Homo sapiens: one gene and its partners. The protein of the gene in region 5 purifies or fractionates together with the protein of the main gene of each other region. This does not show direct contact. Each region holds a gene or a part of one and is shown on either strand. Other genes may lie near its edges. The genes, in order: NUDT16, WDR97, LUC7L3, OTOL1 and MTMR2.

Evidence for each region.
Region 1: the proteins of MTMR2 (region 5) and NUDT16 purify together in Homo sapiens (affinity purification with mass spectrometry, with the first as the bait; one large-scale study listed by BioGRID). This does not show direct contact.
Region 2: the proteins of MTMR2 (region 5) and WDR97 purify together in Homo sapiens (affinity purification with mass spectrometry, with the first as the bait; one large-scale study listed by BioGRID). This does not show direct contact.
Region 3: the proteins of MTMR2 (region 5) and LUC7L3 purify together in Homo sapiens (affinity purification with mass spectrometry; one large-scale study listed by BioGRID and IntAct). This does not show direct contact.
Region 4: the proteins of MTMR2 (region 5) and OTOL1 purify together in Homo sapiens (affinity purification with mass spectrometry, with the first as the bait; one large-scale study listed by BioGRID). This does not show direct contact.

The regions. Positions count from the first base shown.
Region 1 is NC_000003.12:131,385,342-131,389,347, reverse strand, and holds the end of NUDT16 (U8 snoRNA-decapping enzyme), read right to left. Parts: 3' UTR 518-4,006; downstream 1-517. UniProt on the Homo sapiens protein: RNA-binding and decapping enzyme that catalyzes the cleavage of the cap structure of snoRNAs and mRNAs in a metal-dependent manner. Part of the U8 snoRNP complex that is required for the accumulation of mature 5.8S and 28S rRNA.
Region 2 is NC_000008.11:144,110,739-144,114,255, forward strand, and holds part of WDR97 (WD repeat-containing protein 97), read left to right. Parts: coding exon 1-1; intron 2-125; coding exon 126-258; intron 259-362; coding exon 363-484; intron 485-687; coding exon 688-748; intron 749-893; coding exon 894-1,043; intron 1,044-1,148; coding exon 1,149-1,406; intron 1,407-1,485; coding exon 1,486-1,611; intron 1,612-1,708; coding exon 1,709-1,792; intron 1,793-2,701; coding exon 2,702-2,779; coding exon of another isoform or gene 2,780-2,830; intron 2,831-2,918; coding exon 2,919-3,143; intron 3,144-3,238; coding exon 3,239-3,424; intron 3,425-3,517.
Region 3 is NC_000017.11:50,753,644-50,756,719, reverse strand, and holds the end of LUC7L3 (luc7-like protein 3), read right to left. Parts: 3' UTR 501-3,076; downstream 1-500. UniProt on the Homo sapiens protein: Binds cAMP regulatory element DNA sequence. May play a role in RNA splicing.
Region 4 is NC_000003.12:161,495,516-161,499,616, forward strand, and holds the start of OTOL1 (otolin-1 precursor), read left to right. Parts: upstream 1-1,292; coding exon 1,293-1,656; intron 1,657-3,655; coding exon 3,656-3,745; intron 3,746-4,101. UniProt on the Homo sapiens protein: Collagen-like protein specifically expressed in the inner ear, which provides an organic scaffold for otoconia, a calcium carbonate structure in the saccule and utricle of the ear.
Region 5 is NC_000011.10:95,844,091-95,847,607, reverse strand, and holds part of MTMR2 (phosphatidylinositol-3,5-bisphosphate 3-phosphatase MTMR2), read left to right. Parts: intron 1-2,448; coding exon 2,449-2,655; intron 2,656-3,517. UniProt on the Homo sapiens protein: Lipid phosphatase that specifically dephosphorylates the D-3 position of phosphatidylinositol 3-phosphate and phosphatidylinositol 3,5-bisphosphate, generating phosphatidylinositol and phosphatidylinositol 5-phosphate.

The DNA of each region.
Region 1 (4,006 bases), on a different chromosome or scaffold from region 5:
AAAAGAGCTTAGAATAGTGCCTGCCACACAGTAGGCATCCCTAAAATGTTAATTGTCATCAGCATCTTCCTTTTTATTCTTTTTCAATACTACATAGGCATACTTACACCTGACATTTTAACTGTCAAACATTGACTGAAAGTATCTTAGCACTCTCTTAATTAATACTATTTTCTTAATTTCTAATAGACTTTGCTGTATATAATCTGAAATTGTTGGTGATTATGTGATTATTGTGGATAATCTCTTGATCAATTAAAGAATTCTAGTGCCTTTGATATTAATATTATGATGATCTCTTACTTTTTTACTGTAATTCCCTGGCATTCTTTCTCATCTTTTCATATTCAGCCAGAATCATATTGTTTTGGTATGTACTTTGAAATAGTAAAATTTCACGAGTCTTACCGTTTTCAGAAATCAAATCCTGCTAATTTCCTCAGCAGAATCACATTTTTATGCTTCTTTCTCCCTCCTCACTACTCACTTTTACTAAAATAAGTGAGAACCTGGGAACTAGCATAAAATCAAATGATTTATTGTTATTTATAAAATATTTATTATGCTCAATATACATATTTCCTTTCAGATGTTAACATATTGTTTGATAGCCATCATTAACACAGTACTTAGCACTAAAATTGTACATAATAGGAGCCACTGCCTCACAGCCAGCCCACAAATTTCCTACAGTTTTCCTGTCGATCAGTTATTTCCTTTGATTCATTCTGTACATTCCTGAAAAACATCTGTATGGTTTTCCAGTAAAACTGCATGAGTAATATCCATGCTTTTGCACTTAAACGTCAATTTAGATAGACATGCAATTTGTGCTGTAGTAAGTGACCTAATTCTCCTACCTTACAAATTTCCTTCACACAAAAAACAGTCTGATGCTTTTTAGTTTTTATCTTTTTGTTCCCCTGAACATAGTGAGTACTGCCCACTTCTGGTGTAGTATCTTGAGTTTAGGGAAGTTTTTGTCCTGTTTCCTCTAAAATGTTGTTCCTGTTACATGTGTTCTGTTAGTATTTTCCTTCTATCACTTAACAAGACTCTGGATTCTCATTGTCTGATCTCTGTATCTATGATATTCTCTTTGGCCATTTTCCTTGTTTTGCACTTTTTCTCTGGGTTCTAGGGGATTTTCTTAAGCCTGGTCTCCATATCAGAGGTAGATTTTCCTGGGGCTGATGATGCTCTTGCTGTTCCTAGGGTAATGTTAAGTTCTCTAACAGAGAGATCCCTCTCCTTAAATTCTTTCTTGGTGTTGCCAGCTGTTCCTGCATGTCTTATCTTTTCTCTCACCTCATTTCAGAGTCCCTGCTCTCCTTAAATGCCCTGAGTAAATACCACTTCTACTCCTTGGAATGAATCTTCCAGAGCATGGTCTTTATCACGTGCATCTGGTGCTCACATCCTCTTCTATTTAACAGACCTATGTTACTTGCTGTTTACTTAAATCAATTAGGGGCAATTCTGCTCTTTTGGTTTCAAACAATTGGGGTCATTCACCTGTTCTCCCTTCCTTGTTTACCTGGCCTTTCCCTACATCCACAACCTAGGACTAGTGCTGGATAATAGGATGTTGTAAACCCATCAGTTCTGTCTTCTAGAGACCTGAAGAAGGTGGGAGGACTGGGACTGTAGGTGAGGGTCTTGGCTGAGTCCAGGAGCTTTCTATACTTGTTGAAAACCCCATCGAGGGGTTGTTATCCTGAGTGGAAAGAGGGAATCCTCTGCCCCCGCATCACCTGGGAATGCCTGTGGTGGGTACATACCCATGGTGAGGGCACAGGCAGCAGCTCCAATCTGCATCTGTGCATCAGGATGAGCAGCACTTTGGTGAAAATGCTAGACACACAAACTCCCTCCATCTGGGAGCTGTTGGTGAGGAGCTTCCTTTTCTTGTTTTATGTCCTTCCCAAAGTCCCTTTGCTATTCTTGCTTTTCGAGTGTAAGAAGGGTTCCTTTGCAAGATTTCATCTCTGCCCAGCTGGCCCCTGTAGACTACCTCTACCCCTAAAGGGAACATAGCCCCTGTAGAGTACCTCTACCCCTAAAGGGAGCCTCATTTGCCCAAGCCAGAAGGGAAGTGGGGAGAAGGCACATGGTTTCTCTTTGTGGGGGCCCTAAGTCCATGGGGGTTTCCCATTTTTCCTTTTTCCTCTGCCCTGCCCATACTCCTCTTCCTCAGAATTGAACATGTTGTAAATAAAATCCCCTACCTGGCTCTTCTATACTTCTCTGATAAGTGCCAAGGTCCAGCATCTTTTACTTTGGTTCAAATTCTGATGCCATCTAATGATTTGTTTACAGACTAAACTTTTTCCTCTAGTTTTGACTCTCTGACACCCGTTTGTGATTCTATTGGAGATAAAGGTTTCAAAAACATTTCTGTGCAACAAACTGAAACTCATATAGGAAACATGCCTTCCCTCTTCTCTTCCCCTCCCCTTGTCTGTTTCACTGGCCGGCTCCCAGCTCTAAGGGTTCCGGTAACTAGGAAAGGAGGAAGTCACTGTTGCCTCAAATGTTCCAGCCCACAGCAGCAGCTTTGCCATATGCCAAGTGACCACAGAGGACTTTGTCTCAGGACAGGGTGGGGCTCAAAGTGTTTTTATTCTGCACCAGCAGAAAAGTGCAATGCTGAGAAGTGGGAACATCTTGCTGATTATGCTGAGAAAGGCAGAAACACGTGTTTGTGGAGAGGCGGCTGGGCCACTCACCTTGCAAGAAACAAAATGTGCTGTGAAGCAGGAAAGTACATAGCATCCTGTACTTTCATACCGCTCAATGCATCTCTGCAAGCTTATCCCAAGTGCTGCCTCATCTGATCTCACCACAGGAATCACAGCAACATTTCAGATAAGGAAAAGGAGGTCAAGGGCTTGGGTCAAAGTCACCACAGCAGTTAGTGGGGGTCAAAGATTGCAATGAGCATTTCTCTTCTTCCTGCCCCAGATGATTGGACTTAACAAGGCCAAGGAAAGCTTAAGTGGGTCATCATCCCTGGCTTTCCTTAAACATCAGCAGGGTGGGAATGGCTAACAGGAGGAGAAACACAGAGTGTGAACTTGTATCACCCCCCACCTGCCTACCCAGAGACTGTCTATGTGAGTGAGATGAACACAAACCCCAGTACAGTGAAACACTTTTATGAAGGCTGCCTGAGAGGTAATCTACTGACTTGGAGAGTATGTTCAAGGGATCATATAGGAAAGTCATGGGCTCTTCCCCACGCAACCATCTCCAGAGACCTAAATAAAAAGCAAATTTAATACGAATAAGTGGACAGATGAGCTGCCCAGTAGGCAGGCACTGAGAGACTGATCAGTGGGATACTCAAGCAGAGTGAGACAGAGCGGAACCTTCCAAGTGGTATTAGTGTTGACCTGGATTACATCCCATAATGAGTTCTGGATCCAGAATTACCTGAGGGAAGGGGTCTGTTAGCAGTGCCATAAAGGGTCAGTGGCTCTGATCTCCCAGGCGTCAGGGTCCCTTGCAGAGATGACTGAGAACCAAGTGCACAAAGCACAGATGAAGCTGCTACAGGCTGGAACCCCAGGGGCCACTGGAATGTCCATTTCCTGCAGCCTGCCTATACTGAGGTTTAATCTAGATAACGTTTGACAAAAGGGTCAGGGTAAGATTAGGAGATGATAATTAACCTCTAGGAGTCTACCTCATTGTACAGCTGCTCCCCCACTGGGTACTCCCATTCTTCTAAGACCAAGGGCTGCCAGTGGGACCCACACTGCTCTGCATCAAGCTTCCAGACCACTGCCCACCCTCCCTTCCTCAAAAGGCTCTCACCTGGGAGATGCTATCCTGTCATGCCTGCTTTCCCCTCTGGCAGGTGCCACTGGCCTTGTGGCCACTCCTCTTGTTCACCAAGGATGCTGACTCCTAGGTCACACCATTCTCCTCAACATCTGTCGGTTTCTTGCTTCAGCACCCATGTGGAGGCTCACCCTGCCCTCCAGCCTCGCCAACCCTAGAT
Region 2 (3,517 bases), on a different chromosome or scaffold from region 5:
GGTAGGCTAGGAGGTGGGGAGGGCTGGGGTCTCCTACCTCTGCTCCTCACCAGAGCCCACTGGCTGGACTGAGTGGAGAAGGCCTTGTCCCTGCTGAGCCTCGGCTGCCCTGGGTGCCTCTCCAGGCTCCTGCAGCTGAATGGTGCCCCTCAGGCCCTGGCTTTCTGCAGCAACAGTGGAGACCTGGTGCTGGCGCTGGGATCCCGCCTCTGCCTGGTGTCCCACAGGCTCTACCTGCCTACATCCTACCTAGTTAAGGTGTGTGGTGAGGACAGAGTGAGCAAGGTGGGCCCCCCTTGCTCACCTTGGGGGGCAGACCCAGGTTCCCCCAGCCAGGGATACAGGCTCCTTCCCCTATTCAGAAGATGTGCCGGAAGGCCCCAGACGTGGTGGACGACCCTCCGCTGCCACTGATGAGCCAGGAGTCACTGACTTCCGCCCAACTGCAGAGGCTCACCAACCTCCATGGGGCAGCCAGCCTCAGGTCCCATGCAGGCCTGCTCAGCCCTCCTGGAGGCCCTCCTTTCCCACTCTGGGTGGGGGCCTGGCGGTGTGGGGCCCTCTGGAGTTGATACAAGCCTGCCTGAGCCCTGGCACACCCGTTTGGGGTTGGTCCTTGTCCCAGCCTCTGCCCCAGCCCACTGGCATGCCACCCAGCATCCCACCTGTGCCTGTCCCTGTTTGCAGCGAGGCCTTGTCTCTCATCCATCGTCGGAGGGCAACATCTCAGCACCTGGTGCCGAAGGAGGTGGGGTGGGTCCTCCTTAGCCCGCCCTGCCCCGGCTCAGGCCCCAGCCGTCAGCCCTGGGGCAGGCCTGGGATCCCCATGGTTGCCCGGGCAGCACATAGCAAGGCTCAAGGAAGAGCAGGCTGATCCCTGAACCCTGACTCAGGACTTGGACGCCATAGTGGCCCGGGACCGAGACCTTCAGCAGTTGAGGCTGGGGCTAGTGGTCCCAGCAGCCCAGCCCCCACCCTCCTGGCAGCAGCGCCAGGAAGGCTTTGACAATTACCTCCGTCTGATCTACGGCTCTGGCCTGCTGGTAGGTGTAGGGCCTCCCCCAGCCCAGCCCTGACCCTGGCCCCTCTTCTCCACCCACCCCTCCCACCTGGTCTCTGATGGTCTGTCTGCTCCTGCTACCTCCCAGGGCATGCAGTCTGGAAGGGGGTCCCAGCAGTGGAGTGCCGGGACCCTCAGAGTGGAGAGAGAGACCCGGGATGTGTGTGCTGTACCCCAAGCTGCCCACTGTCTTGCCCGGGCTGAGGTCAGCACTGCAGCCCAAACAGTGCCAACAGCCCTGTCCCCACAGGACCTGGGAGCCCTGGGCCAGCACTTCTCCCAGTCTCCCCGAGTCACAGTGCCGATCCCACCCACCCACCGTAGGGTGCACAGCAAGGCATCCCAGGTGAGGCTTCCCACCCTCCCACATGCCTGCTGGGCCCCCATGACCCCTCTGCCACCCTGTGACTCCTCCTATGCCCCAGCTTCTGGCCCGCTCCTCACTGAGCCACTACCTGGGCATCAGTCTGGATCTGCAGCTGCAGTTGGAGCAGCTCCGAGGGAGGACGACCATGGCCCTGGACCTGCCATCCTCCCACTTGCAGTGCAGGGTGAGGGACCCAGGCAGGTGGGGTACCACCTACTGAGGGGCAGAGCTGCCGGGGTGCTAGGGGCTGTGTTGTTCTGAGCCCCCATTCCATCCCCCAGATCCCACTGCTGCCAAAGAGATGGGACAAGGAACCTCTCTCTAGCCTCAGGGGCTTCTTTCCTGCCACCGTGCAGCCCCACAAGGTGAGACCCCCTCCCAGCTCCTGGAGAGCCACTCCTCTCCAGGCATCACTCTTGTGCCTGCCATCTCCCCTTTGCTACAAATCTTTGTGTCCAAATCTGACCCAAGGGCCATGCCCACCTACAACCAGAGGGCCAGGCTGTAGCCTCCCACGCACCCCTCACCCCTCACCCTTCACCCTCTGTCTAGCCCTGTTCCAGTACAGCTGTGTTTGTGGCCACAGGCTCCTTGCTGCTCTGGGAGCTGACATCAGGCAAAGCCAGTCCCCCCAGCCGGTTATGCCACACACCCCTTTCCCCCGTGGAGGCGCTGGGAGGGCAGGTCCCCTAGGGACTTTTCCTGGAAGATCAGAATCCCTGCCCTTTAGAGGAGCAAAGTCAAGGGAACCTGGCCCTTTAGAATCCACTGTCTTCCCACCCTCACGTACACCAGGTGCCCAGGCAGGCCTCAGCCCCTCCCCCAGCATATTCCTGGCACTGTCACCTGCCCAGGTGGGTAATTGACTCTTTGGGCCTGGGTGCCACCATCATGCTCTTCATTGCCCTTTCTCCAAGCTCCTTCCTTCCTCCCTGGCCCCTGTGCTTCTTTTAGACTTTCTTGTCCCAGGGCTGGGGCCAAGTCCTGTAAGGAGCTTGCAGGGTGTCAGGGCCCCTAGAAGCCAGCACTTCTCCAGGTTTCCCTTCTCGTTTGTCAGAGCTGATGCTCACTGAGGGCCTCGCCCCTGGTATCTCAGGGTTCTCCTGCCATCTGTGTTGAGAGTAGGGGTTGCTAGCTCAGCCAGCTCTCGGAGGCCTGGCAGGCAGAGCTGGACTGGCGGCTGAGGGGCTCTGAGAGGTTATACAGGTGACCAAGGGTGGTGTCCAGGCTGGGGAATCCAGGTCCTCAGCATTCCCTGCTGTGCCCACCTCCAGCACTGCCTGAGGCCCATCTGCTTCCCCGGCTATGTGCCCAACTCCGCGGTGCTACAGCAGATGTGGCTAAATGCGGAGGTCAGCAGCCTCGGATCCCCGACTCAGCTCGCCTCCCAGAGAAAGCTCGAGGCAAGGGGCAGGGCTGGGGGTTTTGCCGGCAGGGGAGGGCTCTGCTGTCCTTGCAACCCATCAGGCACCATCTCTTGCCCCTCTGCAGCCAGGGGCAAGCCAGGATGCCCTGTGGTTGTGGCGCCCCAGGCCATCCCAAACCCAGTGGCAGAGGAAGCTGCTCCAATGGATGGGGGAGAAGCCTGGGGAGGAGGGGGAGGAAGACAAGAAGGAAGAGGAGGAGGAGAAGGAAGACGAGGAGCTGGACTGGGCCTTGGCTTCCCTGAGCCCGCACTCCAACCAGCAGCTGGATTCCTGGGAACTGGAGGATCAGGTAGAGGCTCAGGCAGAGGCCCCAGGCCACCACGGGAGGTGGGCTTACACTGAGACCCAGACAGGTGGGACCTGCAGCCACTGCTGCTCCCCTAGAGTGCTGTGGACTGGACCCAGGAGCCCCGGCGGCGCAGCTGCAAGGTTGCCAGGACCCACCCTCATCCCTGGCACCGTCATGGGAGTTTGCTCTTGGATGAGCATTACGGGCATCTGCCCAAGTTTCTGCATTTCTTCATCTACCAGACCTGGTTCAAAAAGTTGTTCCCCATCTTCAGCCTGCAGGTTGGAGGGAACTGGGGATGCATGAGAAGCATGGGTTAGGGTGAGGGACAGGGGAGAAGGTAGGGGCTGGCTTGGGTGTGACATGGGAGCAGG
Region 3 (3,076 bases), on a different chromosome or scaffold from region 5:
TTTTTTTTTTTTTTTTTTTTTTTTTTTGAGACGGAGTCTTGCTCTTGTCGCCGTTTCTAGCTTTTTAAGAGTTACAATTAAGACCTCAATTTGAAGACTGGGCGCGGTGGCTCATACCTGTAATCCCAGCACTTTGGGAGGCCAGGGTGGGCCTGATCATTTGAGGTCAGGAGTTTTGAGACCAGCCTGGACAACATGGTGAAACACTCTACTAAAAATACAAAAAAATGAGCCAGGTGTGGTGGTGCGAAGCTGTAATCCCAGCTACTTGGGAGGCTGAGGCACGAGAATGGCTTGAACCCAGGAGGCGAAAGATGCAGTGAGCTGAGCTCGTGCCACTGCACTCCAGCCTGGGTGACAAGACAGAGACCCTGTCTCAAACAAAATAAAACCTTAAATTGGGCACTCAAGAAACAGCATCTTTAAATTTGTCACTGACTGATGGTTAATTTTACGAAATACACTACAGCTTATATATTAGTAACTACCTACACCAAGACTTTTTTCCCATTCTTCTTTTTAAATTTTATTAAGAAATATCATACATACAAAAGCACATAAACATACAGATTAAAAAAGGAAATGCCCACAGGCTTCAGAAACAGACCCTCACCAGTTCTTCTGAAGACCCCTGTGCCCTCATGATCACCTCTCCCTCCATCAAAACGGCTAACATTAAATTTTGTCTTAATCGTTTCCTTTTATCATGTATTTGACAGCCTGTTTTTGACTTTCATTGAAATGGAACCATAGTGATGTATTCTTCTGTGACTTGCTTTTTTTGATCCTTCTATTGTTGAGTTTTGTCCATGTTCACATACACAGCTGCAGTTCAGTTTCACTTCTGTGGAATTCCACTGTTGGAATATACCACAGTATTTATCCAACACACTGTTGGTGGACACTTGGGATCTTCCCGGGTTTTTTCTTCTTTTCTTCCTATTACACACAAATGCTTAAATCCATCCCCTGGTACGCATGTGTAAGAGTTTCTCTAGGGTATGTATCCGGGAATGAATGGCTACGAGAGAGGTTATGGCACACCCACTTATACCAAATTGTTTCCCGTTTCCCAAAGTTGTTGTTTCTAAACATTCTTAAATCTGTTGACAAATGACCTATTTGGGATGGCTGAGGGGAAGAAATAGATCAGCTACAAAACTCTTGAATTTTTAAAATAGTAAATTCAAAATTCTGATACAACAATGAAAAATACATTTACTTCTCTGCTTTGGCTTACTTGAAATGTACTTTTTAAAACTACAGGTTCAACTTAAAAGTGCTCTCCTTTATCTCAAAATAAATGTTTCTAAATATTACCAGGTAAAAACAGCAAGACTCAGAACATACGGGTATACCGTCATATATTTTGAAAGATCTATACATATATGTTTATATTTCCTCCCACCTCCCATCTCCCCACAAAGAAAACAACTTGGAAGAATAACTGTTAACAGCAGCAAGCTCCTGCAGAGGAAAAACAGAGAAATAGGAGTAGTAGGAGACATAGATCACTGAACACTTTTTTTTTTTAACCATGGGCAACATTACAATTATAATACAAAATTTCAAAAGTAGACCTGGGGTTCTTTCACAAACAACTAAAAAATCCCTCAGGAAATCAAACTTGAAAACCAATCCTGCATGAAGTCCCATCCCACAGAATTGTATACATAATAACTTCAAGTGTTTTTTGTTTCATGCACATATCAGATGTTTAAAAACATATTCACATAGCCCATCTGCAATGCATTTTTAAAAACAGAATGGATGAGGGCTCAGAGAACTTCCACCATAAAAATTTTCAGTTCTTACAAGTCTGAAAACTTTAATCAGAAGGTGGCTGAGCTCAACCAATATGTGGTCCAAGTGTTCTCAGACCTTAGAAATAAGGTTGGTTATTTATCCTCTGTGACACTAACTATATTTAAGGAACCAGAATGCCTAAGGAGAGGGAGTAAAAATATCTGAGCTGAGCAATATGACTAGGTTATTATAAGCTCAAGATCAAGAAAAGGATGTTTCAACCCAAACTGAAAAATGAATGGACTGTGTTTGAAGGGGAAAAAAAAACGTTTTAACAAAAAGGAGCATGATATGTATTATCTCTACATTCCAGAGGAGAGGATGTCTTGAGCAGCAGACTGGTCGGTCCTCTTGAAAGGCTCAATGAAAATTAAACTATTGGACCAGTGCTAATATAGTTTGATGACCAACAAAAGTTTACCCAATTTGTTTTATACTAATGAACTGTTATTTAAGAGGTCTTTGTCTTTTAGAGATACATGCTGAATTATTTACAGATTAAATGGTGTGTCTGAGACTTGCTCGAAAATAATAGAAAACAGTGGATACAAATACAATCACTCATGAAGTATAAAAGTGGTCATGAGTCTTGTTGGTGATGAGTTAACAGAGGTTAATTATATTGTTCCTCTTTTGTGTATGTCTTTAAATTTCCAAAATAAAGTTTTTTTTTTTTTAAGACCAACTGATTGCAGATTCCAAACTTACCAAGCAATCTGATTGATTAAAACTGGTTTGCTCCCCTTAAAGACCTTCCAAAGAGAAAATACATATTCACCAACTAATAACTTTTTGGTCTGCATGGCAGAAATGTTTGTTTCTTCTAGTGAACTGGTCTCAATACTGGATTCTTGTGAGCTGGTTAGCAACAATCAGTTCCTCTTCAGTCACATCAATTTTGGGTGTAAAATTCAACTTCTACGTCTCTCTCCATAACTAAAGCCAGGCCTTAGTCATAGATGTCCTGGGGAGGCAGGTCCTCCTCCCACCACCCCCACATCCCAGGTAACTTCAATAGTTACAATATATCTAAGTGTCCATAGAGGAAGCCTTTTCATATGAACTCATTTATTATACTTCATTTAAGTTAGTTAGACGTTGATTCTAGATGAGGCAGAGCAGAACAAATCTGGTATTTTAGTAACTTCCTAGATTTTTTATTACTTAGGGACAGAATATGGTTTAAAAACTATCACTTTAAGTCCTTTGCTGCTACAACCACAATGCTGTCAAACTACACAAAGCAGTGCCTGGGAGCTATCTTTGTGTT
Region 4 (4,101 bases), on a different chromosome or scaffold from region 5:
TTCTTTCCTGAAACTTTGCTGAAATTATTTATCAGTCCCAGGAGAATTTTGGCAGTCTTTAGGGTTTTCTAGGTATAGAATAATATTTTCTGCAAAGAGAGAGAGTTTGACTTCTTCTTTTCCTATTTGAATGCCATTTATTTCTTTCTCTTGTCTGATTGCTCTGGCTAGCACTTTCAGTACTATGTTGAATAGGAGTGGTGAGAGAGAGCATCATCGTCATGTTCCAGTTCTCAAGGGGGAATGGAGAGCTGTTGTGAGACCTGATTGGATTGATTAATGTACGGCATCTACTCAGAGTAGGGACTGTATAAACAGTAGACCTTTTTAATCTCTTTATTTCCATTCTATTTACTCTCTTACTATTTATCTTAATTATGGCTGCCTTCTCCTATCAGGAAATGTGGATTTATAACCCTGGCTATCTGTTAGCACCCCTTAGACTACTGGGAGTTGATTTGGAATGGAATACTCTGAACTATCAAAATTTCACCTCATTAGAAACCTTACATCATATCACTTTGGACATTGCCAAAGCTCTTTTTAGAATAACCACATTTTGCCCCATTAAAATAATACAAGAATAAACATGAATTTCTAGAAAAACTCCCCAAATTACAAAGCAAAGAGGTGGAGAGTTAAATGCCATGTGAAGAATCTAAGAATGTAGCATATATTCAAATTTATTATTTTTAATTGTCTCTCTCTTCACTTATTAAAATAGATTTTAAAAAATTGCTCTCACAACAGGACCATTATCCTTAGTAGATTTAAGGACTATTTCACCATATTTTTTCTTGAAATAATTGAGTTTGCTGGAATAAACTACTCAGTTCAATATTTTTCATCTCCCTCTAATACAAATGTATTTGATTTCTATAAATCTGAGTGAAATCAGTGAGGAAATTATACACATTTATCTTCCACAGGGTATATGAGCTATTGAGTCATGTTGTATTTATTGTAGATCATGTTTGCTATTTGGCCAGATAGTTTGAATAGTTGGGAACAATATATAATACTAAGAAAATAACCAGAAAGATGAATGGAAGTAAAGTGTTCTTTATAATAAATAAGTACATAAAATATTCTGTAGTGATTCAAGTACACATTTACATGTAAAATATATTGAAAATATATCATTCTATATTATGCATATCATTCATTCTTATGATTCATATACATATATATTTCTTTTATATGAGTATATGTTTATATGACTTAGTCTTTTCATTTGGACCTCACATAATATGTATATATTTTCCTATTATATCTTTCTTCCAGCTTCAAATATGTGGATGTTTTCTTGGCTTTGTGCTATTTTAATTATTTTGGCTATTGCTGGTATGAACACAATAGCAAAGACCACACCACATACCAAATTTACGAAGAAATCTGAGGAAAGAGAGATGCCAAAGGGTCTAAAGCCATCCAGTGGCCCACCTCCAGAAGAAGAAGAAACCCTCTTCACAGAAATGGCTGAAATGGCAGAACCAATTACCAAACCCTCGGCCTTGGATTCTGTCTTTGGCACTGCCACTCTCTCTCCCTTTGAAAACTTCACTCTTGACCCAGCTGATTTCTTTTTGAATTGTTGTGATTGTTGTTCACCTGTACCCGGGCAGAAAGGAGAACCTGGAGAGACTGGACAGCCAGGTATTAGAAAATATAAGAAGTCATGTTTCTCACTTGTACATTGGTAGAGTTGAGAGGTAGGTTGTCGGGTGAAATTGCCCCAGGAGTTTCTACGTTGTTATGCAAATAGTAACAGGTCTAGGTGTCACATTGTTACAAATGTAAATGGGTGCTGTGTTGCCCAATGTGGTAATTAATAAATATTAAAATTAAAATTGAATAAGGTAAAAAATTCAGTTCATCAGTCACATTAGCCACAGTTCAAGTGCTCAACAGCCACTGTATTGGGCAGCACAGATAGCATTTCCATCATTGTAGACAATTCTACTGGACAGTGCTGGTGAGAGCAAAGTCAGGAATTACCAACTCCAGCATGGTGCTCTGGTTCTTCAAGATGCACAGGTTTATTACCAGTACAATTTTTTAAATTAGTGGCTGATTTAAAAAGGGTAAATGAAACTTCTGTTGCCTTGCAAGAATGTGTGCTGACTGATGGATTTTCTGAGTGCTATTTGTAGTTAGGATTAGAAATGGAATGGCTCTGAGGTGGAGAATAAAGCTTAGGATTCCATTTGCTTCTCATTGAATTTCTGAGGCAATACTGTGTCATTGCCCAATGATTTTCTCCATTGAACACCATGGTTATGTATTTCAAGATTTCAGATGTCTATAATATATACATAATGAATATAGTCTTGGCTTTATTCTAATACATTTCAGCTTTTACATGTCATCTAGAAGAGAATTCAAGGTAAAGTTAAGATCAGAATGTCAACTTAAAATTCACCATTGCCTGAGGAATTTAATGTTATAAACTAAGCAATTATACATCTTCACCAAGCTTTTCATTCATTTCATCCCTTTGTAGGGACCTTTTGGGAAATGCGGTTAGTATTTATGCAGAGCTGCATTAAGGAGTAAAGGAGATGGGCCGTAGCTTGGGTACCAAGATGTCAGGATTGCTAAAACATTACTGAAAATTTAATGAGACTGAGAAAATTATATTTACCAGAAGTCTTAGTATCCTATCTGGCTGGTAAGCTGCTTGGCGGTGAAAATCCCAAGGGCATGGTCAAGTAGACACAGCTGGTTGCTAAACTATTTGCTAAGGCTGTGAGTTCTGTAACATCAGGGCTTTTGTTTTACCCAGTGGTGGATTTAGCTGTGCTGTTCTCAGGGTTCATTCTCTCCTCTAAATATATATGACAAATAATTCCAAGGTGTGCCAAGTTATTACCCTGCCTGGGGAGCTCATATGTCTTAGTCTGACTGGTTCTGCCACAGAGCATAGTGCTTGAGAGCTTAGAATGCTGAGACTATCTTGGTCCTACTTAGGGAAGCTACTCTGCTTTGGGAAATCTTAATCTATTCTTTGGGTCTTAGCTTAATACCATTTTCTCAAGGAAGCCTCTGATCTCATCAGTTAAGTCCTCAATAAGACCTTCGTATTTTTCTTTATATCATTTACTACAATGTGACAATTTCTACGTATTTGTGTGGCTATTTGTTAAATGTTTATCTTTCATAGACTCTCAGCTTCATGAGAGTAGGGACTGCTGGAATGTTGATGGCTGCATTCCTAACACCTTGCAGGGTGCTTGGTGTATAGGATGCCTCAGAAATAGTTAATGAATGAATGAGTAAGTGAATAAAAGGGAAATCCAAAGGTGCTAGGTGTTGTTTTTACTTCCAATGTGAAAGTGTGGTCCATATGAGGTTAAGTGTCAGATTATCATTTTGTTCTTGTTTGATATAGTGCTGCTTCCCTGAATCATTTGATCACTGCCATGAATACAGTGACAAGTACTAATGGTCTCAATTTATCTATTCAGGTAGTACGAAATTGCAAATCAGACAAAAATATTGCCCTTAGGACTCTGTGTGGTTTATTCTTACTCAGATTTTACCATTAGGTCATTGATACTTATTGATTGCAGTAAAATGCTTTTTTTCTTTCCTGAACTAATGAACTTTAAAAGAGAAATTTTATATTCTGATGTATTTAAAATCCCATTTCTAGGTCCTAAAGGAGAGGCTGGAAATTTGGGGATCCCAGGGCCACCAGGAGTTGTTGGGCCCCAAGGCCCTAGAGGCTACAAAGGAGAGAAAGGTAGGTAATTCATTCATGTCAAAACTCAAGGGACATTCTGCATCATTTTTCAGGAGAGCAATTTGCTACTTAAAGACTAGATTCTTGCAGATGAGTCAATTTTAAAAATGTAAATACTTGATAAAGCACATTATATTTGATATAAATATGTTAACTTTATAAACAGCCAATTGAGAAATTTTAAACTTACCTGGGAACACTGCACACATGCATGCAGGCACACAGATTGTCACACAGCTTTTCCATCTCTCATTGGTCACCTAGCTGACCTAGTGACAAGCAGCCACAGAGTATAGTCTCTGGGGAAGGGTATAGAGATACCCTTCCTGTACATGCTCATGTTAGCCTACTTCCTT
Region 5 (3,517 bases):
TGAAAAATGGGTAAATGCTTTGATACTTGGAACTACTAGTGAATTTTAATGTTTGAATGAATTGGTTTTTTATATTGTGCATTTGGTTATGTTGTATTTCTTTTGTTCCCCCTCCCATCCTATCTGAATTCGAACCATCCTTCAGATTCCAGTTCATATTTCATTTCTTCCATAAGGTCTTCCCAGATTGCATCCTTTTCCATTTTCTCTGAACTCTTTACCCTGTCTTTCCATCTAATCAGGAACTAGCGTGTACTTTGTTTGCTTTTGTGTGTCAACCAACGTATATTGCTAATTTATGGAGACCAAGACTGGATAAATCCTACATATATTTTTTTGTCCTCTCAGGAGCTAGGGCAGCACTATCCGTGTGAATAGGTACCCAATAAATATTAGTTGATTTGTGAAGTTAAAACCATTCTGATCAGGGAAATGAGGTGGAGTGGTTGCATGAGCCACACTGAGTGCTAAGTCATTCGCAGAGCACATGTCAGTGCTAATTTACCTAACATGCTAATTTAATCTAGTTATATTTTCAGATATGGTCTGTCAGTAACATAACTCACCAAAATGTAGACTTATGTAACCACATATATAAATATTAAGAGGTAATGGGAAATGCAGTCTTTCACGTTAAGAAGGAGGATACTTCTGCTCACATTAAAATCTCTGAAGTTCAGACAGAATTGAAGAGAAAACCAAACTGAATAAGAATTTTAAATAGACCATTTTTACTATTGTTTCCCTTTGAGAAGCTTAGAAGCTTGAAAATCACAAAGTATAAACACTACTCAGAGAGCATGTTCATGTGGCCCATTCATTAAATTATGTGATGTGTAAATATACAGCCTTAGGCTTGATTTGGAACTAACATAAATCGCTGTGTTTGATTCTGAAAACTCCAGATATTTAATTTGCAGTTTCAACATGGTCTCTAAAAGGCTGGCTATAACAGAATCAAATTTCCCTAGAGTTATAAGACATATAGTTGGGCTAAACTACTTTATTCTCCCCCAATCCTTATCACACAAAGAAAGTTTATTTACTCAATCACTCTCTTCTGGTCTCTGCTCAAATATCACCTTTCTGAGAGAGACCTTTCCCAGCCTCTTTACAAAATAAGAGTTCTACCAGCATTCCCTATAACTTCTATGGAGCGTTTTCACTTATTGCCATCTGGTATACTGTATATTTCCTTGTTTATTTGTGACTGGTGGGCCTCACCCAAATAGAATGTAAACTTCAGTAAGCAGGAACTTTGTTCCCTGCTGTATGGCCCGTGCCTAGAGCAGTATCTACCTTCTAGTAAGGGACTCCATAAATGTTTATTTAATGAATGAATGAACAATTACTACTTTGGATAACTCTTCCTGATCAATCTTAACTAAGCCTTTGGGTTAGTGATTCTTAACTTCGTATATGCACTAGAATTATAGGTGGAATTTATTTAAGATACTGAATTAGGATCATTGGACAATGAGGTCTAGGCACTTCAGGCTTACAAATGACTCTTGATATATAGTCAAGATCGTCATAGTACCCCATTTCCAGAATATGCTTATAGCTGTGATCAAGGGGAGGTTATCATACTTCCAAGCTTAATAATCTGTTTTCTTTCATTCTCATCTGCGTATGTAGAACTATACTGTTTTTCAAGTATAATACAATATGGCCATTGCAGAGAAGAATAGGGCTGTATTGTCCTTTTTTTTTTTTTTTTTTTTTAAGATACCATACTTTTGTGTTTCTTTTTTGGTTATATCTAATTATGTTTAGTTTTAACTCAAGATTGACTTCAGAAAAGGTAAGTTATTTTGCAAAGGATTTCTGCATATTTAAAAAAATAAGAGCTGAAGTTATTTTAAGTAACAGATTGACATATTCTGTGAATTTTCATGCAGTGTTACAGAAAAGTAGCTCACTCTAAAGTTTATACTGTGCTTGCTGTATGCTCTGTGACATAAAAATCTTTAGTCAAAACAATACAATAACTGCTATAGAGTATTTTAAAGAGATCCAGTATTATTGCTTTCAGGTGCTTATCCCAATTTGGTTTAAGCATTGTTTTAAATCATAACAAGGCTTCAATTGCTATATCAATTATTTTTATTTAAATAGATGATGGAATATTTGATTCTTAGAAACAGATCTCTTTAGAACTTTTCTAAGAAGAATCTTACACCATGATTTATGTAGCACCCAAAGGTACTTTTGATTTGGCTATTTCGTTGGGCAAATTAATAGGAGTCAGCAATTATGAGGTTTTTCTAGTTTTAAAAGCAAAATTTATATATCTTCTACCATTTAAAAAAATTCTTCTTAGGAAGGGACAAATGTTTTTCCTCATGTTATTGAAATAATGATCCCTGATAAGCTGTATTAGTAAATTTTGAAGAAGGAAGTATTTACCTTGTTTAAAAACAATGTATTAAAAAATCTGTTTTCCAGCTTATTCTTGCAGGGGCTCTTAGGATTGCTGACAAGGTAGAGTCAGGGAAGACGTCTGTGGTAGTGCATTGCAGTGATGGTTGGGATCGCACAGCTCAGCTCACTTCCCTTGCCATGCTCATGTTGGATGGATACTATCGAACCATCCGAGGATTTGAAGTCCTTGTGGAGAAAGAATGGCTAAGTTTTGGACATCGATTTCAACTAGTAAGTAAGGAACCTTGACTTTGGATATATCACATGCATTCATGCCAAGGCATGTGAAAAAAATGTGTTTTTTAAAATAAGATATTCATCTGAAATTGATCATTTATCTAGTGGGGTAAACGTTTTTGCTTGTTTTGGAAAGCATTAAGATATCCCTAACATGACTAGTCTGGAGTCAGAGCTAGCTATTTGTCAAGTGTCTGACCCAGTCTTTTCTGTGATCTCCACTGGGAAACATCGGATATCATTCAGTGATGTCCACGGGTGTTTCTGGGCAGGCGTTTTCCTAAATAATTGAAAAACTTTTAGAAGGGTCTTTACCCAGATGCTGTCTGTAATGTTTACCTTTAGTATCCAGTAGTTACCAGAGTATACTAGCAGTGTTTATACAGTTGTCCCTTGGTATATGTGGGGGCTTGGTTCCCAGATCCCATGAACAGGCCAAAATCCACACATATTCAAGTTCTGAAGCTGGCCCTGCTGGGACCATGTAAAGTTGGCCCTCTGTGTATGTGGGTTCCGCATCCTGCATTTGGCTGAAACAAATCTGCATATAAGTGGACCTGTGCAGTTCTAACCGTGTTGTTCAAGGGTTAACTGTAACATGAAAGGAACAGACATTTAAAGTTAGTCTGCTCTTTTGAACTTGAACTGTTAAATAAAATTGGGTACCTGGAGTGTTTATTCAGATGGCTCACATTTTGCCGTTCTCTACACAATGTACTTATCATGAAACGGCCATTTAAAACAAACTCGTACTTCAAAGAATCAAGTTTTAGTCAGCCAAAGCTGCACATGTTTATATAAATGTGTTCAAAATCAAACATTTTGGGGTGTTCGAAGTTGCTATGGATTCCTAAAT